Regions from separate parts of the Homo sapiens genome. Here all the other regions are reported to be linked to region 5. Evidence: microRNA targets listed by miRTarBase, many of them from high-throughput screens and not tested one by one. Region 5 holds a microRNA gene; each other region holds the end of a gene's coding sequence.
Evidence for each region. The annotated mature microRNA hsa-miR-6748-3p reads UCCUGUCCCUGUCUCCUACAG and lies in region 5 at 3,863-3,883, shown strand. An mRNA with a match to its seed (bases 2 to 7 or 8) in the 3' UTR can be bound and repressed. Matches are read on the target gene's strand: a 7mer-m8 pairs with bases 2 to 8, a 7mer-A1 pairs with bases 2 to 7 and ends in A, and an 8mer does both.

Region 1: miRTarBase lists GPBP1 as a target of hsa-miR-6748-3p. The part of its 3' UTR that is shown has no 7-base or 8-base seed match.
Region 2: the mRNA of HEMK2 is a reported target of hsa-miR-6748-3p. Seed matches in the 3' UTR shown: 7mer-A1 at 4,358-4,364.
Region 3: miRTarBase lists PRKAG1 as a target of hsa-miR-6748-3p. Seed matches in the 3' UTR shown: 7mer-A1 at 2,001-2,007.
Region 4: miRTarBase lists ACSBG1 as a target of hsa-miR-6748-3p. Seed matches in the 3' UTR shown: 7mer-A1 at 2,569-2,575 and 7mer-A1 at 5,046-5,052.

Annotation. Positions count from the first base shown.
Region 1 is chr5:57,261,491-57,267,664 of GRCh38, forward strand. It overlaps GPBP1 (GC-rich promoter binding protein 1), which reads left to right. Exons shown (of 12, transcript NM_022913.4): 12 at 1,104-3,183. The coding sequence ends at 1,262. Among named protein-coding and RNA genes, the nearest start is that of GPBP1, 91 kb to the left of the region's middle.
Region 2 is chr21:28,871,754-28,877,927 of GRCh38, reverse strand. It overlaps HEMK2 (HemK methyltransferase 2, ETF1 glutamine and histone H4 lysine), which reads left to right. Exons shown (of 6, transcript NM_013240.6): 6 at 1,437-5,737. The coding sequence ends at 1,543. Among named protein-coding and RNA genes, the nearest start is that of HEMK2, 11 kb to the left of the region's middle.
Region 3 is chr12:48,998,119-49,004,292 of GRCh38, reverse strand. PRKAG1 (protein kinase AMP-activated non-catalytic subunit gamma 1) reads left to right here. Exons shown (of 12, transcript NM_002733.5): 9 at 371-536; 10 at 698-735; 11 at 1,003-1,149; 12 at 1,287-2,019. The coding sequence ends at 1,394. It overlaps DDN-AS1 (DDN and PRKAG1 antisense RNA 1), which reads right to left and starts at 5,946. Exons shown (of 2, transcript NR_147179.1): 1 at 5,603-5,946. DDN (dendrin) reads left to right here and starts at 4,918. Exons shown (of 2, transcript NM_015086.2): 1 at 4,918-5,214; 2 at 5,627-6,174. The coding sequence starts at 5,006. RefSeq lists an enhancer at 4,253-4,547 and silencers at 4,693-4,987, 5,637-6,096.
Region 4 is chr15:78,166,581-78,172,754 of GRCh38, reverse strand. ACSBG1 (acyl-CoA synthetase bubblegum family member 1) reads left to right here. Exons shown (of 14, transcript NM_015162.5): 14 at 1,226-5,287. The coding sequence ends at 1,311. It overlaps IDH3A (isocitrate dehydrogenase (NAD(+)) 3 catalytic subunit alpha), which reads right to left. Exons shown (of 11, transcript NM_005530.3): 11 at 810-3,833. The coding sequence ends at 3,750. Among named protein-coding and RNA genes, the nearest start is that of IDH3A, 20 kb to the right of the region's middle. RefSeq lists an enhancer at 4,924-5,223.
Region 5 is chr11:62,786,003-62,791,860 of GRCh38, forward strand. MIR6748 (microRNA 6748) reads left to right here and starts at 3,813; the gene lies at 3,813-3,883. It overlaps TMEM179B (transmembrane protein 179B), which reads left to right and starts at 1,400. Exons shown (of 5, transcript NM_199337.3): 1 at 1,400-1,525; 2 at 3,021-3,208; 3 at 3,290-3,424; 4 at 3,599-3,677; 5 at 3,884-4,398. The coding sequence starts at 1,430. The coding sequence ends at 4,045. TMEM223 (transmembrane protein 223) reads right to left here. Exons shown (of 2, transcript NM_001080501.3): 1 at 5,677-5,858; 2 at 3,969-4,913. The coding sequence ends at 4,621. TAF6L (TATA-box binding protein associated factor 6 like) reads left to right here. Exons shown (of 11, transcript NM_006473.4): 10 at 258-386; 11 at 515-1,340. The coding sequence ends at 1,294. RefSeq lists enhancers at 471-670, 5,404-5,858 and a silencer at 921-1,030.

The DNA of each region.
Region 1 (6,174 bases), not on the chromosome of region 5:
TAGCCTCTGGAGTAACTGGGACTACAGGCAGGAACCACTGCACCTGGTTGAATTGACTTTATAGAAGTCTGCAATAGTGACTTATTTAAACTATTGGGTGTGCAATAGTTAGGAATTAGTGTAAGTGATGTCTATGGATTAGTCATTTTCCAGACCTTTTTTGTTTTGTTTTTTGTTTTTGTTTTTGGCTTTTCTGGGGGAGGAGCAAGAGTGATAAGAAGTAGAGAGTGTTAGTAGCTTCCTAAGTAACTTCATCTTTTATCCTTTTCTTGCACAAGAGTATTTCATATTCTAAAACATCTTGCTTAATGTCTCCCTAGTTACCTTTCTGAAAGAGTATTAGGGAATTTTTGTTAGAGCATCAGGAAGTTGAGATGCTTTTTTTCAAATCGATTATTTGTTTATTTAAAGAGTTGGGGTCTCACTCTGTCATCTAGGCTGGAGTGCAGTGGCTGGTCATAGCTCACTGCATCCCCAAATTTCTGGGCTCAAGCAATACTCTTGCCTCAGCTTCCTGAGCAGCTGGGGCTACTGGCTTGTGCCACTACACTGGGCTTATTTTCTGTCTTTAAATTGTTTCTAATTTGGGCCAACTATCTTTTTTCTTCTTTGATGATGTTTTGACTCAATTCTTATTTATTACCAACCTTTTAGTTATGATTTCTCATTTTCAGAAATAGAGAACTGTATTTTTTCTAGTATCTTCATCTCCGGTTAAACGAGACAATTTTGTAACTTTATATACCTCATTCTACTTTACAAACTATGAACAAAGCAGATTGGGGGGTGTATTAATTTAGGTCAGAATAATAAAAATAACAGATACAGCTTAATGGTTTCTGATTATATTCTGGTAAGTCCCTGAAGGTATTTATTACAGTTGTCACTTGAGGCAATAAAAATGTGGGAAAGTTTAGTACCTTAATCAGTGTGACAATTATTACTCACATCTACTTTGTCTGGATCCAGAATTTTTTCAGAAATATCATTACTTGTGTAGTTTTTGGGTTAGGATACAATTTTATTATATTCATGCTTATATTATTACAGTAGGTTTGTAACTCTTGAGGGATAATTTATTTATTTTGCTGTTAACATTTTAGTTACAGAAGAATGGTCTGAGAAAAAATGGTATTTTGAAAAATGGCTTGATCTGTGACTTCAAGTTTGGACCGTGGAAGAACAGCACTTTCAAACCCACAACTGAGAATGATGACACAGAGACAAGTAGCAGTGATACATCAGATGACGACGATGTGTGAAGGATTTCCTAACAGCTTTAGAAATCTTAGTGTGATACATCTCTCATACAGTTTGGGGTGAATTGTAAAAATGAAGAACTATAATTTATGTAGTGAAATACCCCATTAGAAGAGGATTTTTTGGGGGACTTCAATATGAAGAAAACCAAGAATGTTTTGTTGGGCTGTGTTGAACATTATTTCTTTGTAAATGAATGTTGTAGGAATGAGGACTTGGGTTGGTCCAACATTGACTTTCTTCATCACTGCAACATTTCTCTGACTAGCAATGTGACGATGTAACAAATGAGATTTTCTCATTTAATAATAAAAAATTGTGTAATGTTTTGCAAAGCTTCTGTCTTAAAATGTCCAGGTCTTAAGAAAAAAGGCAGCTTACACTGTTTTGCTTGCAGAGTCATATCTTTTTCGTACAATGGAAATCCTCAAGTCCACTTTGTGCGGTCTCCCTCTCCTTCCCCCAAAAAACAACAACAACAAAACAAAAACCAAAAAGGAAAATGTAGCATGTTGGCTAAAACTGGAGCAAAGTGCACTAAAACAATTTCCTGAACTCACCTGTTGTACTATTCACCTTTTAAACCATAAATTGCTCTTTAGCCATTTGTAGTGCAGTAAATGTTACAGGAAAAGACTTGGCACATTTTCTTCCAAATTTTAAGAGGTGATTTTCAAAAGCTTTATTGGGGTATGTTGTCAGACCAGGGTTTTCAGAGTTGATGGAAAAGAGTCTTGTGAGAAAACTTATTTTGATAAATTATTACACACGCAGAAAAACTGATCACACTGACTGGATCTGTCCACGACATGGAAAATAAACTGGATTTTCAGAATATTGTTGTTTTCTGTAGTGTTCAAGGTATTGTTTCTAAACATAAACATACTCTAAACATGCTTTATTCACTTGTTAAAGTCATACTTTTAAAAGTAATACCTTACTAAAGATGGTGATTACTTTTCCGAGGTCAGAAAAGGAAAGCTAAGCGTTTTCATTATCAAATACACAAGCTTATTAAATGAATGACTGTTAACTACTTTATTTTCATTTGCACATTAATTTTGGAATTGTTTCTGTTTTGCTGCTGACGGAAATACTATTTTGGCTCTGTGTATATTTGTATTTTGATTTTTCTGGTTTGTTTACCCCCATTTGCTTTTAGCTCCCCCTTATGTTTAAATATATTCTAACTTATGTAAAGAGCATAATCTTAGAGCAAAAATACTTGAGGTTTTATGTCAGATCTAATCTTAAGTGTTTGTTGTTTTTTAAAAAGTGTTTTCTCAGATGGCTGCAGTGTTTTTGCTATTTCTGCATAAATACCCTACCTGGACTCCCCAGTTTTCACCAGAAACTGTTATTTTTTTTTGTTGTTGTTCCCACTGAGACTGATGGTGATGGGGAAATTAAAAACAACACACTAGCACACTCCCACAAAACTTGAGGAAGAGTTAGAATGGTAATAAAATATTAAATAGACCTTATACTTAAAATAAGGTTTCACTATATAATTTGTCACAATTCAATCTAATCAGCTAAAGTTAAATGTAGTTAGAATTAGCCACAGGAGAATGTAAAGCATGCTTTGACGAAGCTATCGGTAACACATATTGAATGTCTTTGAGACTCTTAGATTGTACTATTTGCTTAATAGATTAATGAAATTTATCAGATACAACCTGTATTTCCAAAAACAAGCTAGAAGGAACCTGAGGAATGTGGTTTACATTTGAGATCCACCTTACTGTGTTTTCTACTTTCAGAAAAGATTCTGTAGTTTTGGTTTTTGGCATCTTTCTTATACTCAGTTTTTTCTGCCTTAATTCCCATTTACCAGCAGTTAACTCATGTTTATTGTGCTTTCATGCATTGTGATATGGAATGTGTTTAGTAATTTACTCCTTATAAATATGGTAAAGTACAGTGGTATGGTTATTCTATGCATTAAGTTAATGACATTAATAAGCTTGGTTATGAGGGGTTGGAGCCATACATGTAATTTAAGAGAACAGTTAAAAGTGTAACATAGTTTTAGCTTGGTGTCTAAATAATGGGCAGCTGATAAAACAGCTTGGACCATATTGTTTTAAAGAGAGCCTACAAGCACAGAAACTAGTTATAGATCTAATGTGGAATTGCTGAACTCAGAACTAGGCCATGGAAGTCTGAAAAGCAAATATGGCTGTTTCAAACTCATTTTTTTGGCAGCTTTTTTATTTTTAACACTTTATTGAGGTATAAATTGACTTGAACACACAGGTAAAACATACAGTTTACAGTGTTTTGACCTACAACTAAGTGAACATAATCTATTATTCCCCCGAATTTCTTGGTTCCTTTTAAGTCCCTGTCACTAATTCTCCACCCCCCTCTCATTTTATTTTGGTATAAAATGTAATTAATGAGCAAAATTCTTAAGGTAATGACTTAAAATAGCATTTCAAAAACTATTTGCTTGATTTTAGTATAAGGATTAGAATATTTCTGCAGATAATTTCTATTGAAATTGTTAATCTAAAATCAGCTTGACTTAATCAGATTTATATTAACAGAATTCAGTATGTTAAAGGATCTGGTTCCCCCAAAATACTTTGTCCTTTTTTGCTAGTGTTTATGTATACTGTTAGAATGTGGTTATATAAACCTTTTAAATTTAGGAATCTGTTAAATAACTTGTTTTAACACCCCATCCGTCATCATCCCTAATCTGATACTGGAGTCTAAATACATGCTCCATAATCATGCAAACTAAGTTGAATCTAGATGATGAGGGTAGACTGGGTGCGGTAGCTCATACCTGTAATCCCAGGACTTTGGGAGGCCAAGGTCAGCAGATCACCTGAGGTCAGGAGTTAGAGACCAGCCTGGGCCAACGTGGTGAAACCCTGTCTCTACTTAAAAAAAAAAAAATACAAAAATTAGCCGGGCGTGGGGGCATACACCTGTAATTCCAGCTACTCATAGGATATTGAGGCAGGAGAATCGCTTGAACCCAGGAGTCGGAGGTTGCAGTGAGTTGAGATCGTGCCATTGTGCTCCAGCCTGGGCAACAGAGTGAGACTACGTCTCAAAATAAAAAAAAAATGATAACTAGGGTAGAAAGGATACACACTTGTGAAATATTTCTATAAAGTGAGATTTTTATTTTGGCTTACACAATAAGGGATGTGTTACTAGGGCTTTTAAATGATTATCACTAAGAGTTGGATATTTTAACTTTTAGATAGTTAAGTTTCCTGAGGTTATAAAAGTTATTTGGCTGTTAGGGGAACGACAGGACATATCAAGCAATAGAAAAATCCGTGAAAGCCTCCAGATGCCGCAGAGATGCTTCAGATTCTGGTTTTTGTTTTGCTACTTAATATTTCCTTTCTTTAGGCAGGGCTGAATGCTTGCACTTAAAACGATGGGACTCAGAGGACAGCTGTGATTGTTTTAATATTTAACTATGGGGCTGGGCATGGTGGCTCACGCCTGTAATCCCAGCACTTTGGGAGGCTGAGGCGGGAGGATCACCTGAGGTCAGGAGTTCAAGACCACCCTGGCCAACATGGTGAAACCCCATCTGACCCAGTCTGTACTAAAAATACAAAAATTAGCTGGGTGTGGTGGTGCATGCCTCTGATCCCAGCTACTTGGGAGGCTGAGACAGGAGAATTGCTTGAACCTGGGAGGCGGAGGCCATAAGCCATGATTGTACCACTGCACTCCAGCCTGGGTGACAGCGAGACTCTTGATATATATAACTGTATAACTATATATATATAACTATATAACTACATATATAACTATATAAAAACTATAAAACTATGTAAAACTATATATAAGACTATATATATATAAAACTATATATATATAGTTATGGGACACGTGGACCTGAAACATTCGTAGTTTAGGACTTGAGAATGTGTTGTAATTAAGAGGTTTTGTAATTGTGAATTTTTGTTCAGTTGTACAGTTAACTTTAAGTTCATTCTGCCTACCCATATGGATTCGTTTTGTAGAACTACTCTGGCATAGTGATTGAAGGTACAATGTATTATATCATTAGGTCTGGTTGAAGGACACTGCTGAAGCATGTTCCATGCAGCAGTGTCCTAACTTGCAATATGTAAGAGCATGTGTAGTGGTGGGGCCCAAACTTATCTACACCATTGGTATCATTGGGGAGCTTCCCCAATGTGTCCACCATCCCCCACCAACACCCCAGATTGTGGTTTAATTAGACTGGGGCGTGGCCTGGGCTTTAGAATATTTAAAAATCCTGCCCCCAAAACCCATTCTTTTTTTTTATTTTTTGAGACAGAGCCTTACTCTGTCACCCAGGTTGGAGTGTAAGTGGCGTGATCTTGGCTCAGTGCAACCTCTGTCTCCTGGGTTTGAGTGATTCTCATGTCTCAGCCTCCCAAGTAGCTGGGGTTACAGGTGCGCACCACCATGCCCGGCTAAATTTCATATTTTTAGAGATGGAATTTCGCCACGTTGGACAGGTTGGTCTCGAACTCCTGACCTCAAGTGATCCTCCTGCCTATGCCTCCCATAGTGCTGGGATTTACAGGCATGAGACACCGCGTCCAGCAACCAGTTATAATGTATTAACATACAGTATGGTGGAAGTAGTCACACCTGGGTTTGAAACTACATTTTTTTTCCCCCTTTTTATTTGTGCCTTTTTTTATTTTTTATTTTTTGAAGACAGAGTTTTGCTCTGTCACCCAGGCTAGAGTGCAGTGGCATGATGTCTCCTCAATGCAACTTCTGCTTTGTAGGTTCAAGCAATTCTCATGCTTCAGCCTTTCAAGTAGTTGGGATTATAGGAGTGACCACCATGCCCAGCTAAGTTTTGTACTTTTAGTAGAGACAGGGTTTTGCCATGTTGGCCAGGTTGGTCTCAAACTTGGCCTCACGTGATCC
Region 2 (6,174 bases), not on the chromosome of region 5:
TTTTTCTAACACCTCACTCTCAGTATTATGAATTTTCTCTCTACCCTCTAGTCTTCATGCCCTTGACAATTGTGCTGTACTCTTTAGTTCGTTAGGAGTTTTATCATGAAAGCTATTTAATTGTATAGATTTTTATATCTTTGTTTTCAGATTGCTTTATAACTAAATTGACCATAATCTTTCCTCTCTTTTTCTGTACACTTCAAGTTTGATTTTCAGCTTATACTAAAAGTCCTCAGCCCTTCAAATCACATGATTGCTAGTTTTCTCTTGTCTTTCTCCCTTCCTTCCTTCCTATTTCTCTCTTTTCTCTTTTTTTCCTTCCTTCTCTCCATCTTTCTTTCTTCCTTTCTTCTTTCCTTTCCTTTTCTTTTTCTTTATCTCTCTCTCTTCTCTTCTCTTTTCTTTTTTCCTTCTGTCCATCTTTGTCTCTTTTTCTTTCTCTTTCTCTTCTCTTCTTTTTTTCCTTCCTTCTGTCCATCTGTCCTTCCTTCTCTCTCTCTTTCTTTCCTTCCTTCTTTTTTTTCTTCCCTTCCTTCCTTCTTTCTTCCCTTCCCTTCTCTTCTTTCTTTTTTTTCTTTCCTTCCTTCCTTCTTTCTTTTTCTTTCTTTCTCTCTTTCTCTCTCTCTTCCTTCCTTCCTTCCTTCCTTCCTTCCTTCCTTCCTTCCCTTCTCTTCCCTTCCCTTCCCTTCCTTTCCTTCCTTCCCTTCCTTTCTCTCCCTTCCCTCCCTTCCTTCCTCCCTCCCTCTCTTTCTTTCTTTCTTTCTCTTTCTTTCTCTCTCTCTCTTCTCTTCTCTTTTTTTCTTCCTTCTGTCCATCCATGCGTCCTTTCCTTTCCCTCCCTTCCCTTCCCTTCCCTCCCTCCTTCCCTCCCTCCCTCCCTCCCTCCCTCCTTCCTTCCTTCCTTCCTTCCTTCCTTCCTCCCTCCCTCCCTCCCTCCCTCCATTGTCTTAGTTCAGTCTTCTTAGTTTTATTTATTTATAAGGAAGGTTTTCTTTTTTCAATATGCCTGAAAGAAATAAGCTACTTCTTTCACTCTCACTGTGCAATGTCACTATTCAGTTTGTCCACACCTTCATTGGCTTTTGTCATCCAAAGAGAAAGACATAGGGCAGAGATTGGAGCCAATCAACTAAAAAACTGATCACTTGCTATAATAACAATGACAATTAATGTTTCTGCTGAGTCAAAAGTAGGCTGTGACTGCAAAGCAAGCCATTTATTCTGATTAGACTCACCAGCAACACTTTGAAAATACCAAGTGCTCCCATTTAGCTGAAGACCAAGTTCACTTTAGTAGACATTTATTTGATATACATTGTTTTGTCAGATGAATACAATTTATAAATCATCTGTGTTTAACTTATTAAATTGCTTATTGATCATGCACACTACCAAATGGCTTAATGGATTTTACCTTTTGATTTTTATTTTAGAAGAAATTTTGAAAATAATGAAGACAAAAGGTCTGCAAGGAACCACTGCACTTTCCAGACAAGCAGGCCAAGAAACTCTTTCAGTCCTCAAGTTCACCAAGTCTTAGCATACAGTGTGTGCCCAGAACTACTGGAAACTGAATGCATTTAGCATATTTTGAAACTGAAGTCATTCATTAGGTAACAAGGAATTTTATCAGAAATTTGTCATTAAAAAAAGGTAGAAAGGTGGAACATTCCCTTTCAGTCAGGCCTATAGAATTATTTGCACAAGTACAAGTAAATATGTGTATTATATTTATAGTTTGCATTTTAAATATAAAAATTATGTATGAAATATTTATTTCAGCATTATGTGGTAAGGCAATGGAATTGATCTGGCAAATGTCTTTTTTTTCATACCAGTCCATAAAGGCAGTTTGCTTTCAGATGGCAGGGCCAGCAACACACCTTCATTGTCGTATCTCCGGTGTGTATCAGCTCTCCAACTCTATGTCATAATTCAGTTCATGGGGATCTTGATTACCTTTCCCTTCCACAAAATATTACACTGATTGGTTATATCGATGACATTATGCTGATTTGACCTAGTGAGCAAGAAGTAGGAACTACATTAGACTTAGTGGAAAGACATTTGCATCAGAGGGTAGGAAATAAATATGACTACAATTCAAGGGCCTTCTACCTTAGTGAAATTGGTAGGGATCCAGTGACATGGGGCATGTTAGGATATTTCTTCTACGGTGAAGGATAAGTACTTGCATCTTGCTGCTCTTAAAACCAAGAAAGAGGCACAATACTTAGTGGGCCTCTTTGGGTTTTGGAGGCAACATTTTCCAATTTCATTATGTTATACCAGCCTGTTTACCAATTGACTCAAAAAGCTGCTAGTTTTGAGTAGGGCCCAGAACAAGAAAAGAGTCTGCAACAGGTCCAGGCTGCTGTGCAAGCTGCTCTGCCACTTGGGTCATATGATCCAGCAGATCCAGTGGTGTTTCAGTGGCAGTGGCAGATAGGGATGCTGTTTGAAGCTTCTGGCAGGTCCCTATAGGTGAATCTTGGTTTAGGATTTTAGAGCAAAGCCGTGCCATTACCAACAAATAACTAGTCTCTTTTTGAGAAACAGCTCTTGGCCTGCTACTGGGCCTTAGTAGAGACTGATACTTAATGAGTCACCAAGTTACCGTGCAACCTGAGCTTCCCATCATGAACTGGATGTTATCTGAGCCACCAACGCACAAAGTTGGATATGCACAGCAACACTCTGTCATCAGATGGAAGTGGTATACACATGATTGGGCCTGAGAGGCCCTGAAGGCACAAGGAAGTTACATGAAGAAGTAGGCCAAATTTCCGTAGTCCCCACTTCTGCTACCTGCCTTCTCTCTTCCAGCCTGCATCGGTGGCTTCATGGGGACTTCCCTGTGATCAGCTGACAGAGAAAGAGAAGACTTAGGCCTGGTTTACAGAGTGTTCTGTATGATATGCAGGTACCACCCTAAAGTGGATAGCTGCAGCACTACATCTCACCTCTGGGCTACCTTGAAGGACAGTGGTGAAGGGAAATCCTCCTGGTGGACACAACTTTGAGCAGTCCCCCTGTTGACTTTGCTTAGAAGGAAAAATAGCCAGATATTCAATTATATGCCAATTCATAGGCCGTGGCCAGTGGTTTGGCTGGATGGTCAGGGAGTTCAATATAACTGGAAAATTGGTGACAAAGAAATTTGGAGATGAAGTATGTGGATAGACACTGAATGGGCAAAAAGGGTGAAGATATTTGTGCCCCATGTGAATGCTCACCAAAGGGTTAGCAAAAAAGGATTTTAATAAAGTGGACAAGATAACCTGTTCTGTGGATACTAGTAGGCCTCTTTCTCCAGCCACACCTGTCATCACCCAATTGTTTCATGAGCAAAGTAGCCATGGTGACAAGAATAGAGGTTATGCATGGGCTCAGCAACGTGGACTTCTACTCACCAAGGCTGACCTGGCCAAGGCTATCTCTGAGTGCCCAGTCTGCCAGCAACAGAGACCAACACTGAGCCCCTGATATGACACCATTCCCCAGGGTCATCAGTCAGTTGCCTAGTGGCAGGTTCATTACATTGATCCACCTCTATCATTGAAGGGATAGTGTTTTATCCTTACTGAAATAGATCTTACTCTGGATACAGATTCACTTTCCCTTCGCGCAGGGTGTCTGCTAAAACTACCATCCGTGGACTTACAGAATGTCTCATCTATGACCATGGTATTCCACACAGCATTACAAGAAACTCAGTTCACAGCAAAAGTGTGGCAGTGGGCCCATGATCATGGAATTTTCTTACCATGTTCCCTACTATCTTGAATCAACTGGCTACATAGAGCAGTGGAATGGCATTTTGAAGACAGTAATAACACCAGCTATATAGCAGTGCCTTGTAGGGCTGGGACAAGGTTCTCTAGAAGACTGTCTATGCTCTGAATCAACATCCAGTATATGGTGCATTTCTCTTATGACTGGGATTCACAGGTCCAGGAATCAAGGGGTCAGAATAGGAAGGACACCATTCGCTATTAGCCCTGGTGACCCACTAGCAAAATTTTTGCTTCCTGTTCCCATGACTTATGCACTGCTGGCCTAGAGGTCTTACATAGGGTGGAATATTTTCCACTGAGAGACGCAATCATGATTTAATTGAACTGGAAGTTTAAGACTGCTCCTCAGCCATTTGGGGCTTCTTATGCCTCTAACTCAATAGACAAATGAGTTACAGTGCTGGCTGGGTGATTGTTCCTGACTACCAAGTAGAAACTGGACTACCCCGAATGGTGGTAAGGTAAAGTATGTTGGGAATACACAGGATTCCTTAGGGCATCTCTTAGTGTTATCATGCCCTGTGATTAAGGTCAATGGAAAACTACAGCCTAATTCAGACAGGACCACTAATGATCCAGACCTTTCAGGAATGAAGGTTTGGGTCACCACCAGGTAAGTACCATGACCAGATGAAGTGCTTGCTGAAGGCAAAGGGAATACAGAATAAATGGTGGAATAAATACTAGCTTTGATCATATGACCAGTTACAGAAACACAGACTGTGATTGTCATAAGTATGTCCTCCATATTTTGCTATAACTACATTTTGTGTGTGTGTAGCTTTGTTTTCTTCTCATTTCCTTATTCTGTAACATAAGATGCATTGATTTTATAGCATAGTGTTTAAATATTGTTAATTTTTTTAACTGGCTCCAGTGTTCAACCTTGATTAATTTTACATCATAGTATTTAAGTTATGGGATATCAAGGAGAGAGTAAACATCACATGAAGACTTTACCACCTCTTCTGGGAAACGGGTTAGAGTGTTTCTGGTGGAATGCTGGATTGTTAATCGTGTTAGATGGAATTATGACCTTGTTGTTGTCTTTATGTGGCAGTTAAGTATGGTTTAAAGAGATGTTTATGGGTGCCAAGTTGACAAGGGTAAACTTGTGATGGTTAATTTTATATGTCAACTTGAATAGGCCACAGGGTGCCAAATATCTGTTTAAACATTATTCTGAAGTGTCTTGAGTGTGTTTACAGACAAGATTTGCATTTGAACTGGGGGACTCAGTAAAGGAGATAGCCATCCCCAAGGTGGGTGGACATCATCCAGTTTGTTGAGGGCGTAAATAAAATAAAAGGCAGAGGAAGGAAGAATTCCCCCCCCTTTTTTTTCCTGCCTCATTGTTTGAGCTGTGACATCTCATCTTCTGTCCTCAGATGGATTTACATCACTGGCTTCCCTGGTTCTCAAGCCTTTGGATTCAGACTGAATTATACCACAGGCCTTCCTGGGTCTCCAGCTTATAGATGACAGATCATGGGACCTCTTAGCCTCCATAATCATGTAAGCCACTTTCTTGTAGTACTGGTAAAAGATATATTAGACCAATCTATAAAACAGCTAGCTATGAAAGAGAAAGGTGACAGGCACAAGCCTAGGCAAATAGAGAAGGGTTCCTGGAGAGCCTCTGACTTGCCTAGGTCATTGTGCACACGTGGCTTGCCTGAATGAACATGCCCACTGTGAAAGATTCCATTTCTCAACACATGTGCAGTAAGGGAAATAAATCAATGTGGCTCAGACTAAGCGCCCACACATGGGGTGGAGCCACGAGGAGTTTGCTCCTTATGCAGGGGAGAAGCCGTGCCTCTTCAGCTCGTGTGTGGTGGCCTGGCATTCAATTTGTGAGGTGTAAAACCTGCATGAAGGACCCCTCTTTTTGTGGAGAGCTTTCCTTTTGCCTAATAAATTCTGCCCTCCTCGCCTTTCAGTGTGTACGCGTGCCTAATTTTTTCTGGTCATGTGATAACCCAAATTTAACTGAACTAAGGAGCAAAAAATCCTGCATCAGCTACATTAATAGCTGATTGTACTAGATTGAGTAGTGTCCCCCCAACAAAATTCGTGTCCAACTGAAACCTGTGAATATGCTCCTATTTGGAATTAGGGACTTTGCAGATGTAATCAAGTTAAGACAAGGTTGTACTTGATTAGGATGGGCCCTAAATCCAATATCTCTTGTGTCCTTGTAAGAACAGGAAAATCTGAACACAGAAACAGAGACATAGGGCCATATGAAGACAGAGGCAGAGGTTGGAGTGATGAGTCAATGAGTAAAGGAATGCCAGGGGTTGCTAGCAACTGCCAGAGGCTGGAAGAGGCAGGCAAGGATTCTTCCTTCAAGGCTTCAGAGGGAGCATGG
Region 3 (6,174 bases), not on the chromosome of region 5:
TGAGACAAGTTCTTACTCTGTTGCCCAGGCTGGCGTGCAGAGGCGCTATCATGGCTCACTGCAGCCTCCAACCTCTTGGTCTCAGGTGACCCCCGACCTCAACCCCCAGAAGAGCTGGGACTACACGTGTGTACCACCACACCTGGCTAATTTTTTGGTATTTTTTATAGAGATAGGGTTTTGCCATGTTGCCCAGGCTGGTCTCGAACTCCTGGGCTCAAGCAATATGTCCCCCTCAGCCTCCCAAAGTGCTGGGATTATAGGCATAAGCCGGCGCACCCAGCCCTTATTTCTAATATACTGGGTTGGAGGGGGTATCCAAGGGTGGCTTTGGGTGCCTTGAAAGTTAAGCTGATGGTTCTTTCCTCAGATCACTGAGTTCCCCAAGCCAGAGTTCATGTCCAAGTCTCTGGAAGAGCTACAGATTGGCACCTATGCCAATATTGCTATGGTTCGCACTACCACCCCCGTCTATGTGGCTCTGGGGATTTTTGTACAGCATCGAGTCTCAGCCCTGCCAGTGGTGGATGAGAAGGGTGAGAGATTGGGCAGAAGGAGAGGGAGGGAAGATCCAGGCAAGTCAGGGTGGCTCTGGGAAGATCTGCTTTCCCCTCAGCTTAGCCAGGAGGGTGATTCTATGAGTAGGGGGAGCTTTAGATCCCAGATCCTCCTTACTGAGCTGCCTCTGTCCCCCTAGGGCGTGTGGTGGACATCTACTCCAAGTTTGATGTTATCGTGAGTGATTGTGGAGGGTCTGGGAGGTAGGGAAGTGGTGGGGGGGGGGCACTGTTAAATATGGAGAGGGAGAAGGGAGTCTCTTCTGTGATCTAAGGGTCTTAGAAGCTTCCAGGCTTTCAAATCCTATTTGAAAAGGAATTGAATGAGTTGGGTGTGGCTTGTGGCTGACAATTGCCCTGAATCCCTCTGTTGAGGTTGGATGGGTTCAGGGTTTGGAGGCTGGCTCTCTTGCTTCCCTGCAAGCTCCTTCCTCTGTCTCCCCAGAATCTGGCAGCAGAAAAGACCTACAACAACCTAGATGTATCTGTGACTAAAGCCTTGCAACATCGATCACATTACTTTGAGGGTGTTCTCAAGTGCTACCTGCATGAGACTCTGGAGACCATCATCAACAGGCTAGTGGAAGCAGAGGTAGGGAGGCCAGCAACCCTAAAGGAGCTGAGGGGAGCAGCCTTGAGAGTGGGGTTTGGCAAGGAGAGTAGGGGCAGAGGGGCTTCCCCTGAGGCCAGCACTAAACATTCCCTTTCTCCCTTGTTGCTCTGTGCCAGGTTCACCGACTTGTAGTGGTGGATGAAAATGATGTGGTCAAGGGAATTGTATCACTGTCTGACATCCTGCAGGCCCTGGTGCTCACAGGTGGAGAGAAGAAGCCCTGAGCTGGGGGAAGGGGTCATGCAGCACCAGGGGATATGCCCAACTCACTGCCTGCTGGAAGCTCTGTGGGAATCAGATGAAACTTGAGGGAATTGTGACTCTGTTCCCTGTTCAGGGTCCCCTGCCCTTCTATCTGGGAGCTAGGGAAGGTATGGGGGAGGAAAGAGAATGGATTTATAGCTACCCTTACCCTCACACATACACTTGAAAAAACTTTCAGCCTAGCCAGTTCTAGCCCCTGTCCTCTTAGATATATCCCCCTTTCTGGGTGAACTATAGGCTCTGTGCCTCTCAGACAAATTCTGATCTCTAAGAGATCCCCAGACCTCACTTGCCTCTGCCTCCATCTTGGCCCTGATTCAACCCTAAGATAATAGCACAACAAAATTCTTCATAAAGATATTTTTATTCACCTGTTCCGTGCTATATGGAGGAGGCCAAGTCCATTTAGTGACATTTCTTCCCATAATGTGAGTGGGGAGGATTGTGGGGAGGAGGGGCTTTGGGTTCCTGTGTTTGTGCATATGAAGGGAGATGGGGGTTAGGTGGAGGAGGAGAGCAGCGTGGTTAGCTAAGGTTATTGCTTTTTGTGGCAAATCTAATTAAATGACAGGAATCTCTTCACGATATTGCAGTGTTTGATTTTTACAGTTGATGGGTACTACCTTCCTACTTTATATGGCTTCTTCAACTGGTCATTAACAATAATAATAACGTGTGTACGCACACACACACGTACACACACACGAGTAGACAGACTTGAGGGTCTCCTTTGGGCAGAGAATCCTGCCACCATTATCAGCTTTTCTTAGTTGGGGAAGGTTGGACTGTTTGGCTTTTGCTGAGTTGGCACTATCTTTTTTTTTTTTTTTTTTTTTTTTTTTGAGATGGAATCTCACTCTGTTGCCCAGGTTGGAGTGCAATGGCGCAATCTCAGCTCACTGCAACCTCCGTCTCCCGGGTTCAAGTGATTCTCCTGCCTCAGCCTCCTGAGTAGCTGGGACTACAGGCGCGCGCCACCACGCCCAGCTAATTTTTGTATTTTTTAGTAAAGACGGAGTTTCACCCATATTGGCCAGGCTGGTCTCGAACTCCTGACCTTGTGATCTACCTGCCTCAGCCTCCCAAAGTGCTGGGATTACAGGCATGAGCCACCGCACCCGGCCAGCACTATCTTTAAACCTACAAATCCCTTGCCTCTTCCAAGGTGAGAATGAGCTGGATGGTGGGAGAACAGCAGGGCAGTGGTCACTCCATCAGATCCATTCCCTGTATTGAAAGCATGTAGACCCAAACAGCAGTCAGCACCCAACATCAGAAGAACTGCTAGACTGGAGTATGAGCTAAATTTGGGTGCCAGCTCACCCCAGCCTTGCAGGTATGATACAGTTTCCCATCCAAGCCAGGAGCAATTTCGGAGTCATTCCTTGCCCCTGCCCCACAGTGCCTAACCCCTCTGATAACCCTCCAGCCAGGGCATACTGGGTTCTCCTGATGGAACACAGGGAAAAGCATCAAGGCCCTCATCAGATTCGACCTGAGGAAGCTTATTTTAAAAAAAGAAGGTGGCCCTCATCAGAGCTCAGCTTTCAGTGTTGCATCATGGCTGTGGAGGAGCCCCTGCTTCTGCCTTCACCCCTTTACAGCTCTCACAGCACATTCTCAACCTTGGGGGAGGAAGGCTTCCAAGTTATTAGAATTAGAGTATGTTTATGTGTCAGGAGGGTAAGCACATGGTGGAAAGGACAGATGGCCCCTTATGTCACATTCCCTCATTAAGGAAGATTTGCCTAGGGAGGAGGCAAGGGCTTTAAAAAGCCTCAGGACTCTAGTGGGACCTAGGGTGGAAGGAAGCATCTTCGAGTCAAGTCATCAGTGCAGCTGGCAGGTGTGTGGAATCAAGGGGGGTAGGGTGGATGGGACGGGATGTTTGCGTTCTCTCTAAAGGTTTGTGTTAGGGAGCAGAGACCTGGTTTTGTTGAGTTGTTTCTCAGTCTGTCAGTCTCTGCCCCACAACCTTTCTGGTTGTTCCCCATCCCCTTAAAAGGAAGGGTCTGGACCCAAAGGGCTCCATGTACATTAGTGGAAAACTAATTGGGAACTCTTGCTTCTCCCATTTCCCTCTAAAACCCAACCTATCCGTCTCAGTGTGAGGATGAAGCTGAGGGAGAGACAAGGGATGAAATTTGGGAGACTCACAAGCTTCTATTCTTACCTATTCCTCTCCAGAGAGGCAAATTATCCCTTCTTCCCGAGGAACCATGCCCCACACACTCTCCCCTCTCTCTGCACTGCTCCCCTCCACTGAAGCTGCTGCCATGGTTGCCAGGCATGGTTGCTAAGTCTCTGCATGGAAGGGTTGGCGTGGGCTGTGCTGCCACTAACATTACCATGGTGAATCAGGGGACACCTGGTATAAGCTTAGGAGGAGGGATCATGTGGATATAAGCAACAGCCCCCCAGGACAGAGGCAGCCCAAAAGGTGAGCATCTGGAGCACCACTTAAGGTGGGGACTGAGTGAACTAGGCATTGTGGTGGTGGTGAGGGGGAGTTCTACATTGAAAAAAATAAAGGCCACTTTTATCATTTCAGTTGCTAGGGGATTAGTTTTGCCAAGCAAACACATCATTTCTCCTCCATCCCCCTCTGGAAGGGTGAGAGTGCATAAGCACTTACTCTGTCCTCCATAAAGCTGGGCAGGCTGTGTGGGCACAGAACAATATAACCCCCAAATCCTGGCTTCTGGATTGGAGGTGAAAGCCTGCTGCTGTGGGAGGGCTCCCTGGCTGCCCAAGGACAAACATGTAGAATGGAACTGGTAGGGCAGCTTGGGTGGCCAAGGCAGACGCCTGTGTCCTGCTGTACCAGCAGTCCTAGGCTGCAGCACTGAGCTGACAAGGAGATACGGGTGTAGGGGTCACCCTTTTTGAGCTTAGGGAAGGCAGCTCTCCCTCAGAGTCGCACAAAAGCTTGGTAAAAGCCACCGCCTCCTCTCTCCACCGCATGGGAGCTGGTTACTCATCTCATCTCTGCACCCGAACAGCCACTGCCGCTAAAAATAGCCCCCCAGCCGTGGGCCAGCCCCTCCTGCACCCCAGCCCCATGGAAACCAGCAGAGTGGCAGGCAGAGACCTTGAGTTCCAATCTCATCACTCTATGTTGGGGAAACTGAAATCTGAGGCAGGAAGCCAGGGGCAGAACCCTGGTGGTCAGGCAACCTGACAAGCAGGAGAGTAAAGGGTTAAAACGGCAGGAAGGTTGAAGAAATAGGGGCGGGGGAGGGGGCACTGTCAGCTTGGCAAGAATCATAAGTCCCTCCCCCGCCCACTCGTGCGATCCCATCAGGCTTGGGGGACAACAGCAGTGGGAAGGGGCGTCCAATCCCGGGCCCCAGGGGGCGGCCGTGCACATGGGGGAGGTAGCAGCGCGGAGCAGTCCGCGCGGTGTCACATGCGCGCGCACACACAGAGACAGGCACACACACGTGTGCCCGGGTATATATAGTTCCCAGTCCCCGGGCCCGCGGCTCTGCAGTGGGCGCCGGCTCCCTGGGCTGGGAGGGGGCTCCTGGGGCGGGTGGGAGGGTGGGGGGCCGGGGTGGGGTGGGGCAGGATGCTGGATGGCCCACTGTTCTCCGAGGGGCCTGACAGCCCCCGGGAGCTCCAGGATGAGGAGTCTGGCAGCTGCCTCTGGGTGCAGAAGTCCAAGCTATTGGTGATAGAAGTGAAGACTATTTCCTGTCATTATAGTCGCCGCGCCCCTTCTCGACAGCCCATGGACTTCCAGGCCAGCCACTGGGCTCGCGGGTTCCAGAACCGCACGTGAGTGAAGCAGGGGTGAGGGGAAGAGAGTGGTGGGGCGGGGAGTGGGGTCCGGACCTCCCCGCAGGCACCAGCGAGCACTGCTGGTCCCCCTTCTCTTTCCCACGCCTTCCACCTCTGCCCGCTCCCGAGGGCTGGGGCCTGACTCATCCCGTTGTTTGGGGGAACAGAAGTGGGTGTGAGAAAGGGCAGGAGGTGAGATGGGGCAGACGCTGTTAAAGTGTGCATGGAGAGATGGCGAGGAGTCCCGCTTCGACTTCAGTCCTAACATATACGCACGTGCACACGCGCACACACTCACACACACCCCTTCACATGGCTGCCCCAAGTGGTCTCCAGTGCTCCCAGCTCCCCGGACCTCGGCTCCCTTCCCCCACAAACTGCTCACCTGGGTTCCTGCTCATTGTCCCAGGTGTGGGCCGCGCCCGGGATCCCCACAGCCGCCGCCCCGCCGGCCCTGGGCCTCCAGGGTGCTGCAGGAGGCGACCAACTGGCGGGCGGGGCCCCTGGCCGAGGTCCGAGCTCGGGAGCAAGAGAAAAGGAAAGCGGCGTCGCAGGAGCGGGAGGCCAAGGAGACCGAGCGAAAAAGGCGCAAGGCTGGTGGGGCCCGACGGAGCCCCCCGGGTCGACCCCGCCCGGAGCCCCGCAACGCCCCTCGGGTGGCCCAGCTGGCAGGGCTCCCTGCTCCCTTGCGGCCGGAGCGCCTGGCGCCTGTGGGGCGAGCGCCCCGTCCATCCGCGCAGCCGCAGAGCGACCCAGGGTCGGCGTGGGCGGGGCCCTGGGGAGGTCGGCGGCCCGGGCCCCCAAGCTACGAGGCTCACCTGCTGCTGAGAGGTTCTGCCGGGACCGCCCCACGACGCCGCTGGGACCGGCCGCCACCCTACGTGGCTCCACCTTCTTACGAAGGCCCCCATAGGACCTTGGGGACTAAGAGAGGCCCCGGGAACTCTCAGGTGCCCA
Region 4 (6,174 bases), not on the chromosome of region 5:
AGGTAGAAATGGTTATGCCAGTGTGATTCCCTCAAATCCATCACGGCTGAACCCAGATGCAATTGTCTACAGCAAAGCTGAGCTGCAATCAGAGACCTTGAGCTTATCTGGCTGTCTGCTGCCAGCATATTGAACGCAAGGTCAGAGAGACAGAAGATGTCTTCACTAAGCAGTTAATATAATGACTTTAACACAGAAAGTTTCCAGTTACACAGTCAAGAGTGAGTTAGGCACTTTAAGCTACCCAGGACCTCAAATCAGAGCTCTTTCAAACTTGCTTTTGGGGGATAAATCAAGGTTAAGAAAAGTAATTAGGGGAAGACCTCTCATAAAGACCATGGCAGAGGCTCCCCATAACCTGGGCTTCCCCTACCCCCATCACAACCATCAAAGCATAATGTCCAACGTTGTATAAACGTTCACAAAAATGCAGAGATGATGTGTACTAGCTATCTAATACATTGCTGTGTAACAAATGACCCCAAAAATGTAGCAGCCTAAAGCAGTAAACATTTATTATCCACATTTCTATGGGTCAAGAATCCAGGAACAGCTTAGCTGAGTGGTTCTGGCTTGGGTCTCACGGGATTACAGTCAATGTGAGCTGGGTGCAGTCACTTGCAGCTGAGGCTCACCTCCGCGCTCACTTACGTGGCTGTCGGCAGGCCTCAGCTCCTTGCTGTCTGCTGGCCAGAAACATCCGTGTGTGGCCAGTGGGCCTCTCATGGGCTGTGTATCCTCACAACATGGCAGCCGGCTTGCCCAGGAAGAATGGTCCAAGAGAAAGCCCAAGACAGAAACCTAGTCTATTTTTTAATTGCTTCAACAATTTATTCATTCAAGAGATGGAACAAATAAATCCATTTCAGAGAAAATGGACTGAGGGTCAAAACTGGGTACAGGTCAAGGAAAAGGCAGATGTAGCTTACACTACTTTCCTATGTGTATAAAAGAAACTGATCTTTTATAACCTATTCTCAGAGGTGACATACCAACCCTTCATCTATACTCCACTGGCCACAACCAGTGGTATAACACAGGAGACTACACACAAGCCATATGAATACCAGGAGCGATCACTGTCTTGGAGGCTGGCTACTGACGGTCCTGATTATCTGGCTTAATTCCTGAGTTATATATAGGACTGAGTGTGAGTCTTTACCACACACATTCTCAGAGTTCTCAGAGCCTGGGCCTCACTCATTTCTTCTCATTTCCCTTTTAGGTCCCACGATGAAACTGAAACGGCTCACAGTTTTGGAGAAGTACAAAGGTATCATTGACTCCTTTTACCAAGAGCAAAAAATGTAATCAGGGCCTATGCCTGCAGTTTCTATAGAATAGAGGGCAGGCGTTCCGAGCCTCTTCCTGAGCCCCAGGTCTCTTCAGTCTGGGCACAGGCATTTCTGCCAAGTCTGTTAGATCTCCAGGTCAGGGCACAGCACTGGCTCTACATTTACCAGGTCTTACGCCAACAATAGCTGACAATTCCAAGAAGCTTCACGTGTGGGTAGTTTTAATTCAGTTTAAGTATTGCTTTTTGTTCAGGTGACAAATGAGATCAGCTCTCCTTCCAGAACGAAAGGGCTGATAATTTTTGGCCTTAGTTCCAGGTAGATTAAAAAGCTGCTAGCTCACATACAGGACAGCCAGCAGTAGGCTGTGGAGCGGGTAGGAGAGAGATGGCTGATACTGCTCACGTGCGCTGCAGGAAAAGCAATCAGTCACAACTCACCTAGCGACCTGACTTACTCTGGAATCTTGGCGGGCATCGCCGACCCTATTATTCCATTACCAGGCACTCCGCCACCCACATGCCAACTGACTTGATGCTTAATAAAACTGCTGCTGCCTGTTTGATTCTATTTAATGTATAATTTGAATATTAAACCTTTTAACAGAACTGTCAACAAGGACCTGATTTTTTTTGTCAATTGAGCAGGTGGGACCAGTGCAGAGAGTAGTGGGCATTTAACTCACAGGACTGTGCACAGCGGGCATGCGAGTGACCATTAGTGCCCTGGAATAAACAAAGGTGCAGGATGGGGTCAAGTGGCGCATTCTCATAAAAGCAGCCAGCTCTACGTTAGCCTGTCGCCACCAGACCACCCCACTTCCATTCTGAATACGGGAAGCAGCCATTCTCAGTAGCAAGCTGAGCCAAAATGACCGAAGGCATCTGAACAGGAAACAGGTAGAGAAAGCAAACATCTCAGTTTTGGAATTCTTTATTACTTTGAACCCAAGAGCCACTGATAACTGGCACAATCCAATGAAACAGAGGAAGCAGCAGCTTAAACAAAGGAAAATACATTTAAGATTATAAGTCTGGGGGGGCGGTTACAAGCTTAAAAAGTGACCCAGACAGGGATATCATTGCTAAAAAAAAAAAAATCCCCTTGTGACCTGGGTACATTTTGCAAAGCCACAGGTTTGCAATGTTACACAAGGGCCAAAGGAGGCCATGAGTTGTCTTTGGTTGTGGGGACAGAGGGTAACTGTTCATGAAAATAGTGAGTGTCTGAAGATTAAGAAAATCATGCTGCAGCAGAGGAGAAGGGAGAGGAAGACAGGAAGGGAAAGGAGATGCCTGAGGGTCAAAAGCTGAGCCCAAGCCTAAGCCCAAGCTCAAGCTCAAGCCCCAGCATGGCATAATTTTGTGAATTAACTCAGGCTGAGTTGCCTCCAGTCTTTGGAATGTCATCTTATACTGGTACTGCTGAGGCAGAGGGCAGTAATTGGTGCTTTGGGATAGGAGAAGGGGCAGTTGCTGAAATACAAAATTAATAGCATCCCAAGTTCCTCAATTGCAGCCAAAATACATGTGTTCGGGCCTTTCGGCAGTATCGCCCCCAGAACTACCTGCTGTAGTGTGGTCCATTCCCAGACAGCAACATGCAAGAATAAGTTTACAATACACTCAGCCCTTCTGGCTTCAGATCAGGGGCTCAGAGGCTGTGACAACTCATGATGCTGAAAATGTATCCAGTGAAAATGAAGTACTAGCTCTCTGCTTCATTAAAAGCTCTTGGAAAGAATATTAAATCTCAAGACAACAAAATAATTGAACACACAATACATTTGTGTCTTTGTATCCAATATATTACCTTTGTCTTATTAACAAAAATTATATCTCTCATTATATATTTCTTGGATCTGAAGTTTTTATTCACACTCAGTAATTTCTGTAAAGGACAAATCTGTCTCTATTTTCCATATCATTTAGAAATATACCACATTCACTCTTTTTGATGTGAACTTTCCCAGGAAAATTCTCTTGTGCCCATTTAGTTTTAGAAGAGTGTCATTTTGTGCTATTATGTCAATATCCTGTTTTATTTCCATTATGTTTTTCAAAAACCGAAGAAAATAAGGTTTTTCTTAAAAAGTTAGACATTTTCTCTTGTTAATTCTGTATCCTGTTATTTACAGCTGAAGAGAAACTATTTTAACTTAAGTGTAAAATGGTTTAGAATAGCAAATGATACAGTCCACTCAGAGTTTACAAAAAAAACATTTACCAGGTAGACACTTAATAAATAAAACAAGCACTTGGAAAAAGTTCTTTGAAAACAGACCTAGGGACATCCACCTGCATCTTTTGCACAGATTTTGTTAAGAAAAGGCCAGATCTAAAAATGTACTGTCAAGAAACAAGCAAACCAATGCATACATACGTAGGTATTCTAAACAGAGGTTCATGTGGTGTCCATTTAGAGTGACTGATGTAAATGCCAGTTGTAGAAGTGTTAATCTAAATCTTTTACTCGGCGACAGATTTCCTCTGTGAAGTCTGAGCATTTTGCATTGCCTCCCAAATCTTTTGTCAAGCTCTGAGAAAAGGAAAAAGCAAAAATAAAAGATGTATCCGCAAACTAAACTAAACCAAGGAGATTTTAAAGCCCTCAGTGAGATGCCACCTGGGCAAGTTACTCGGCTGCTCTTTCATTTAGTTCCTCATTTCAAAGTGAGGAACCACTCCACCACCATCTACCCAGCCCAGGAGGATCGGGATCCAATCTCATAGTGTATACAACAGCACTCTGCAAAGAATAAGGTGCTCTTGATGCAAAGGGAGGCAGGGAGCTTTACCAAAATTTTCCCTTTGTTCACACAATAGACCCTAACCCAGATTAGTTGGTCATGGATATTTAAATAAAAGCGAATCTAAATAAGAAGTTTCATAAAAATCCTTGGGAAATATGTCTCAGGAATAGACCTGAGACATATTTTGATCTATTTTTGTTTTTATTATTATTTTTTTTTTAGATGGAGTCTCACTCTGTTGCCCAGGCTGGAGTGCAGTGGCACGATCCCAGCTCACCACAACCTCTGCCTCCTGGGTTCAAGCGATTCTCCTGCCTCAGCGTCCTGAATAGCTGGAATTACAAGTGCATGCCACCATACCCAACTAATTTTTGTATCTGATCTATTTTTGGAGGCTGGGACACAAATACGAAAGAAATATTTAAATCATTAACTCTTTTTTTTTTTTTTAAGAGACGGGGTCTCACTATGTGGCCCAGGCTGGTCTTGAACTCAGAGGCTAAGGTGATCCTCCTGCCTCAGCCTATAGCTGCAACTACAGGCATGCACCACCACACCTGCCTAAATCATTAACTCTTAAACCTCCCTCTTTAGGAAAGAAAGCCTCCCATACAACTGATCTGTTCTACCAGCTTATCCTTTCTTTCCTGCATACAGACCCCAATATATTTAATTCTCTTTATCTTTCCATCCTACACAATAAAAGGGCCCACTATGTAATTCAGGCACCTCTCTACTGGGCTGTAGATTATAACTTCCCAAATATAACTTTAAAGAATAAGAAAATCATATGACCTCCAATGTGACTATCAGGCTGTTAAAAACAAGCCTGAATTTCTTGTATTTTGGCCACACGATATAATTTCAAATTACAGAATTTTTTTAAAAGAAGGGACCAACTTTGAAGATATTACGCTAAGTGAAATAAGCCAGACTCAAAGGACAAATACTGTATGATTCCACTTACATGAGGTACCTAGAGTAGTCAAATTCATAGAGACAGGAAGCAGAATGGCAGGTGTCAGAGGATGGGAGGGGGAAGGGAAAGTTACTGTTTAACGGGTGCAGAGTCTCAGTTTGAGAAAATGAAACTGGTCTGGAGATGACTGATGGTGATGGTTACATTACAATGTGAATGTACTTAACATTATTGAACTGTATACCTAAATACGGCTAAAATGGCAAATTTTATGTTATGCATATTTTTCACAATTTTTGTTAAAAAGGACCTCAAATTAGGGATGAGTCTTCAAGTGCATTATTTCCTCTAACTTCGGAATAGCCCGCGACACTTCTTCCACAGGCCACAATTGCTTACCGAGGCGGTGGAGCTTGTTGGGTAAGGCCCAGACTGCGTGTTAATACCAACTTGGGTCATTTAGGAGCTGTAAAACCTTGGACATATTATTTATTCTCTCTGTACCTCAGTTTCCTCATCTATAAAATGGAATTATAGCATCTACTTCAAAGAGTTATAGAAAAACTTTGCTGAGATGATATATAAAGAACTTAAAAGTTGCATAAGTATTCAATTAATATTAGTTATTACTTTTATAAAACTTCTGTATTGCTTTTGTATTATAGATGCACACAGTGTAACATATAAGACTATTGTATTAGAGGTACATCTGCATCTGTATCTGCCACTAGATTCCCAGCTCCTTGAGGCTCAGCATCTTACCCTATTCATCATTTTACTCTTCACACCTTATAAGGTACACTCAACAGACGTTTGTTGTGAAGAGTAAAAAGTTGTCTATAAAAATCAATGAACTTGGCCGGGTGTGGTGGCTCATGCCTGTAATCCCAGCACTTTGGGAGGCTGGGGCGGGAGGATCACTTGAGCTCAGGAGTTCGAGACCAACCTGGCCAGCATGGTGAAACCCCATCTCTACTAAAAATACAAAAATTAGCTGGGTGTGGTGGCACACGCCTGTAATCCCAGCTACTAGGGAGGCTGAGGCAGGAGAACTGCTTGAACCCGGGAGGTGCAGGTTGCAGTGAGCCAAGATTATGACACTGCACCCCAGCCTGGGTGACAGAGCAAGACTCTGTCTCAAAAAAAATCAATGAACTTGGCCAAGGTCACACAGCTAACAATAGGATAATTGGGCGTGCACCTGATGC
Region 5 (5,858 bases):
TTATTTAGCACACAGGGCAGTGATATTGGGTATATTTTTTATTGTCTCCCTTTGTACCTTATCTTTATTCCCAATGCCTAGCTTAGGTATACAGTAGGTTCCAAATAAATATATGGTTGAATATGCCAATCAGGGAATTTAGGAGGATTGAGCCCTGTCTAGGATCAGAGATAAAGGTAGGTCTTTCATGGGAAAGGGTCCTTGAGAGGGAATAAGTATCAAAGACATGCTAACTGTATTCCTTCTCTTCCTTCCAGGCAGTAGAACGAGTCCTGTACCCACACCTGTCCACCTACTGGACAAACTTGCAGGCTGTGCTGGATGATTATTCAGTATCTAATGCCCAGGTCAAAGCAGATGGACACAAAGTCTATGGAGCCATTCTGGTGAGTACCGTCCCCTTCCAGCCTCCCTTCCCTGCATGAGCTTAGCAGCCAAGCAGGCTTACTTTGGAATATTTGATGGGCCCAGGTTCCTCGAATTTTTTGCCTATCTTAGTCCTTGGCTCTTACAGGTGGCGGTAGAGCGACTGCTGAAGATGAAGGCCCAGGCAGCAGAGCCCAACAGGGGTGGCCCAGGTGGCAGGGGGTGCCGGCGCCTGGACGACCTGCCATGGGACAGCCTTCTCTTTCAAGAGTCGTCCTCCGGGGGCGGTGCAGAACCCAGCTTTGGGTCCGGCCTCCCGCTGCCGCCAGGGGGCGCGGGGCCGGAGGACCCTTCTCTTTCGGTGACCCTGGCCGACATCTACCGGGAGCTCTACGCCTTCTTCGGTGACAGCTTGGCCACACGCTTTGGCACCGGCCAGCCTGCACCCACGGCTCCGCGGCCGCCCGGGGACAAGAAGGAGCCGGCGGCAGCCCCGGACTCGGTGCGGAAGATGCCGCAGCTGACGGCAAGCGCCATAGTCAGCCCGCACGGCGACGAGAGCCCCCGGGGCAGCGGCGGAGGCGGCCCCGCGTCGGCCTCTGGGCCCGCCGCCTCTGAGAGCAGGCCCTTGCCGCGCGTGCATCGGGCGCGCGGGGCACCCCGGCAGCAGGGCCCCGGGACCGGCACCCGCGACGTTTTCCAGAAGAGCCGTTTCGCCCCGCGCGGCGCCCCGCACTTTCGTTTCATCATAGCCGGGCGGCAGGCTGGGAGGCGCTGCCGCGGGCGCCTTTTCCAGACTGCCTTCCCCGCGCCGTACGGGCCTAGCCCGGCCTCGCGCTACGTGCAGAAACTGCCCATGATCGGCCGTACCAGCCGCCCCGCCCGCCGGTGGGCGCTCTCGGACTACTCGCTGTACTTGCCGCTCTGAGTCAGTGGCCCCTTCGTTCCTTGTAAATAAATCCCGCCCCCGGAAATGACGTCTCCACCTTCGTGGGTCGCGCCGGATAAGGTGGGCTTTGGGCGGGGTGCTGCTGCAGCGGCGCTTCCTGGTGGTCAGGGCGCCATGGCGCTGTCCTGGCTGCAGCGCGTCGAGCTTGCGCTCTTTGCTGCCGCCTTCCTGTGCGGGGCCGTGGCGGCCGCGGCGATGACTCGGACCCAGGTGCGGCTGCGGGGCGGGGTCAGGTAGGCGGGGGAGCTGGCCGGTCTGGACATGGCGAGGCCACTTTCGCTTTCCGACCGGGCTTGCTGCTGCTCGGAGCCGGTGGACCTGGTGAGGCACGGCTGGCGCCGGCCTGTACCTGAAATGCAGCGAGGCTAATCGCGCTTTGTGGCTCCTCCTGGCCAGGTCATACTTCGAAGTTGTCCCCTCGCCAAAGGGACGGGTCAGTAGCGTCTTAAAGCACTAGGTGGAGTCGGGTTTCGTGGCTCCTGCTGCACAGCCTTACTGTGGTTCCGAAACAGAAGTCAGTGCAGAACCTGCGTCCATCCGTTAAATCAGAAGCCATTTGTGCTGAGCTTTGTCGAGAAATAAAGCATAGTGTAGTGGAGATGATCAAGCTGCCACATGATTGTAGCACAGTGTGTTAAATGACAAAATGAGAGATGGAGAAAACGCTGACGTAAAGGTAGAAGCCAATAATTTACATCGTTTACCCCAGCCAGGTAATCTGGTTAATAAACATGGGTTCATTTAATGCCTATAAAGTAGGCACTAGTGTGCCTATTTTACACCATGAGAAAACCTCAGAGATCCGCCGGGCGCGGTGACTCACGCCTGTAATCCCAGCACTTTGGGAGGCTGAGGCAGGCGGATCACTTGAGGTCAGGAGTTCGAGACCAGCCTGGCCAACATGGCAAAACTCTGTCTCTACTAAAAATACAAAAATTAGCCGGGTGTGGTGGCTCATGCCTGTAATCCCAGCTACTTCGGAGGCTGAGGCAGGAGAATCGCTTGAACCTGGGAGGCGGAGGTTGCAGTGAGTCGAGATCGTGCCATTGCACTCCAGCCTGGGTGACGAGCGAATCTCCATCGCAAAAACAAAAACAAAAACACTGGCCGGGCCTGGTGGCTCACGCCTGTAATCCCAGCACTTTGGGAGGCCGTGGCAGGCGGATCACGAGGTCAGGAGATCAAGACCATCCTGGCCAACACGGTGAAACCCTGTCTCTACTAAAAATACAAACAATTAGCCAGGCATGGTGGCGGGTGCCTGTAGTCCCAGCTACTCAGGAGGCTGAGGCAGGAGAATGGCATGAACCCAGAAGGCAGAGCGTGCAGTGAGCCGAGATGGCGCCACTGCACTCCAGCAAAAAAAAAAAAAAAAAGCACCTCACAGATAGTTATTTGTTGAAGGATATACAAGGCCTGGGTTTACTCTAAGGTTTCTGCACAGAGACCATAACTTGTGAGGCTTCTCTGAAGCTCATTGCATTCTATATTCATTGCCTATTTTCTGATCCTTCTGGCCACTGCCGGTGTGATTCCCCAGCAGGCCCTCTCCATCAATATCCCTGTCCCAGAAATAGGAATTGACGGTGCACAAATAACTTCCTGGAATGCAGGACCATTCCTAAGTTATCACTAACACCCTACCAAGAGACTGTATCTAGAGACATTAACCTGAAATCTAGGACTCAGCAGCTTCTCTCCACAGGGCTCCTTCAGTGGTAGATGTCCCCTGTATGGTGTGGCCACCCTGAATGGCTCCTCCCTGGCCTTATCCCGTCCCTCAGCACCATCCCTGTGCTACTTTGTAGCTGGGGCCTCTGGCCTCTTGGCCCTCTACTGCCTCCTGCTTTTGCTCTTCTGGATCTACAGCAGCTGCATCGAGGACTCCCACAGGTGACTGCCTAACCCTGAGGGCCAGGGGCTGAGGTAGGATGAGCCTCACCTCCACCACAAGGCTTGTTCTCTCCCTTTCAGAGGTGCTATAGGGCTGCGCATTGCACTGGCCATCTCAGCTATAGCCGTCTTCCTGGTCTTGGTGTCTGCCTGTATCCTTCGATTTGGCACCAGGTCTCTCTGCAACTCCATCATCTCCTTGAACACTACAATTAGGTAATGGGAGAGGGAGGGAAGCCTGGCTGGGGCTGACTACCTTCCCTCTGCAGCGGGGTCCTATAATTTCCTTTTATCCCCATCAGTTGCTCTCAACTCACAGGGCACTGGGCACAGGTGTGCCTCGGATATAAACTATCACGCTTTCTCACAACTGTCTCTTTGACCTCACAGCTGTTCTGAAGCCCAGAAAATTCCATGGACACCCCCTGGAACTGCTCTGCAGTTTTACTCCAACCTACACAATGCTGAAGTGAGACCCAAGGATAGGAGGAAAAACTGACATAAATATCTGTAGCTGTGTGGGTGCTCACCAGTGTATTGTGAGCTTGGCCTACCAGTGAGAGGAGCTGAAGGGGTTGTCAGCTTAAAATTCAGCAGTTCAGAGTGGTGTGTGGGTGGGAAGGACTGGATTTGAAATGGTCCCACTCCTGACGATCCTGTCCCTGTCTCCTACAGACCTCTTCTTGGGTGAATTTGGTATTGTGGTGTGTGGTCTTGGTGCTCCAGGTCGTGCAGTGGAAGTCTGAAGCCACCCCATACCGGCCTCTGGAGAGGGGTGACCCTGAGTGGAGCTCTGAGACAGATGCTCTCGTTGGGTCACGCCTTTCCCATTCCTGAAGAATAAGCGGAGTGCTTCCTGCAGCCGAAGACTCCATGCCCAAGTGCCTGTAATCCCCCCCCTCAAGGCCCTGTTTATGTTGGGAGTCTTAGTTTTCCTTTCGTTGGGGGGTGGGGGGGAAACATAATGACAGGCCCCCCTCCACCTCTTCCTGCAGCTGTTTTTGTACCAAAATATTATATTACTGTCTTCATCTTAGTAGTGAGTTTTTGATGTTAAAGTACAACTAGATAGGAGGAAGGAGTGAAGGCTAAGCAGACATGGACTGAAACTTAGAGGTACTGTTAGGCAGCTGCCCTAGGGATGACTGCTCCTTTATTTGTTGTTAATGAATCTTGACCTCCTTGTGTGACCCTGGTTGTTACTCCATTCTAAGATTGGCGTTTTTTTTTGTTTTTTTTTTTGTAAATAGAGACAAGGTCTCGCTATGTTGCCCAGCCTGGGCTCGAGCAGTGCTCCTGCCTCACCCTCCCAAAGTGCTGGGATTACAACAGGTGTGAACCAACACACCTGGCTCCCCAAGGTTCAGTTTTTATCCTCCTCTTGGAGAGGTGAGTGACTTGAGGTCATTTCTTCACAAGCTCCGGTAGGCACCCACAGTATTGTCAAAGAGTTTTGTGTTAGGGAAGTGTCCAGTTTTGTCCAAGAGGAAATAGAAGCGTCGGCCTTTGACTTTCAGAGGTAGCATGGCAGGGACTTCACCCCGGTGGGCCATGCAAGATACCTGCTTCAAAGGAACTGTGAAATGGGCCCCCAAGCCAAAGGGGGCATGAGTGGTGAGGGTCACCTGCTGCCCTCCAGCTCGAAGCACCACTGAGCGCACAGACCGGAGAGAGAAGAGAAGACCAGCACCGAGTACGAGGGCTCCTGCAGGCAGGGCAGAGATTGGGGTGAGGGGTTTTCACTGGGCATCTAAGTACCGACCTTTCCAGTGCCCTCTGAATAAGAAATTTGTGGGATGAAAGTAGTATTTACTGAGCGCTTTTTTTTTTGAGACTGAGTCTCACTCTGCCGGCCAGGCTGGAGTGCAGTACTGAGCTCCTGTTATACCCAGTAATCTTGTTATTCCTCCCAACAACCTTAATAGATGTCCGTTTCCATTTTAATGGGAAGATGGAGAGCTTTAAGGACCTTGCTCAAGGTCGCAGAGTGAAGGGCAGCCCTCAGCCTAGGCTATGACAGGGCACGGCGCTCGGAGACATCACTGTTTCCCAATTTTTTTTTTTGAGAGGGGAGTCTCGCTCGGTCGCTTAGGCTGGAGTGCAGTGGCGTCATCTCGGCTCACTGCAACCTCCGCCTCCCAGGTTCAATTGATTCTCCTGCCTCAGCCTCCCGAGTAGCTGGGACTACAGGCGCTTGCTACCACGCCCAGCTAATTTTTTGTATTTTTAGTAGACACAGGGTTTGACGGTGTTAGCCAGGATGGTCTGGATGTCCTGACCTAGTGATCCGCCCGCCTCCGGCCTCCCAGCATTTGAGCCGCCGCGCCCGGCCAGTGTTTCACATTTCTGTGGGGTAAAGCCCGCCCGCCACTCTCGGATAGGGAGTCCCTGACTCTCCCTGCCTGTATAGGGAAGGTCGTGTCCCGCCACCCCACGTTGTCACAGTGGGAAGCCAGCCCACGTCTTACCGATGGCGCCGCAGCCGACGGCCAGACCGTAGCGCCAGAGCGCGGAGCGCAGGTCGAAGGGGCCACGATTTGGGACCTCCGCATCCAGAGGCTGCACCGGAACCGGGGGCCGGGACACGGCTGCCACAGCCATGGAAGCCCAGAAGACGCCCTGGCCCGCGCAGAACAGCCCGAGGATGGTG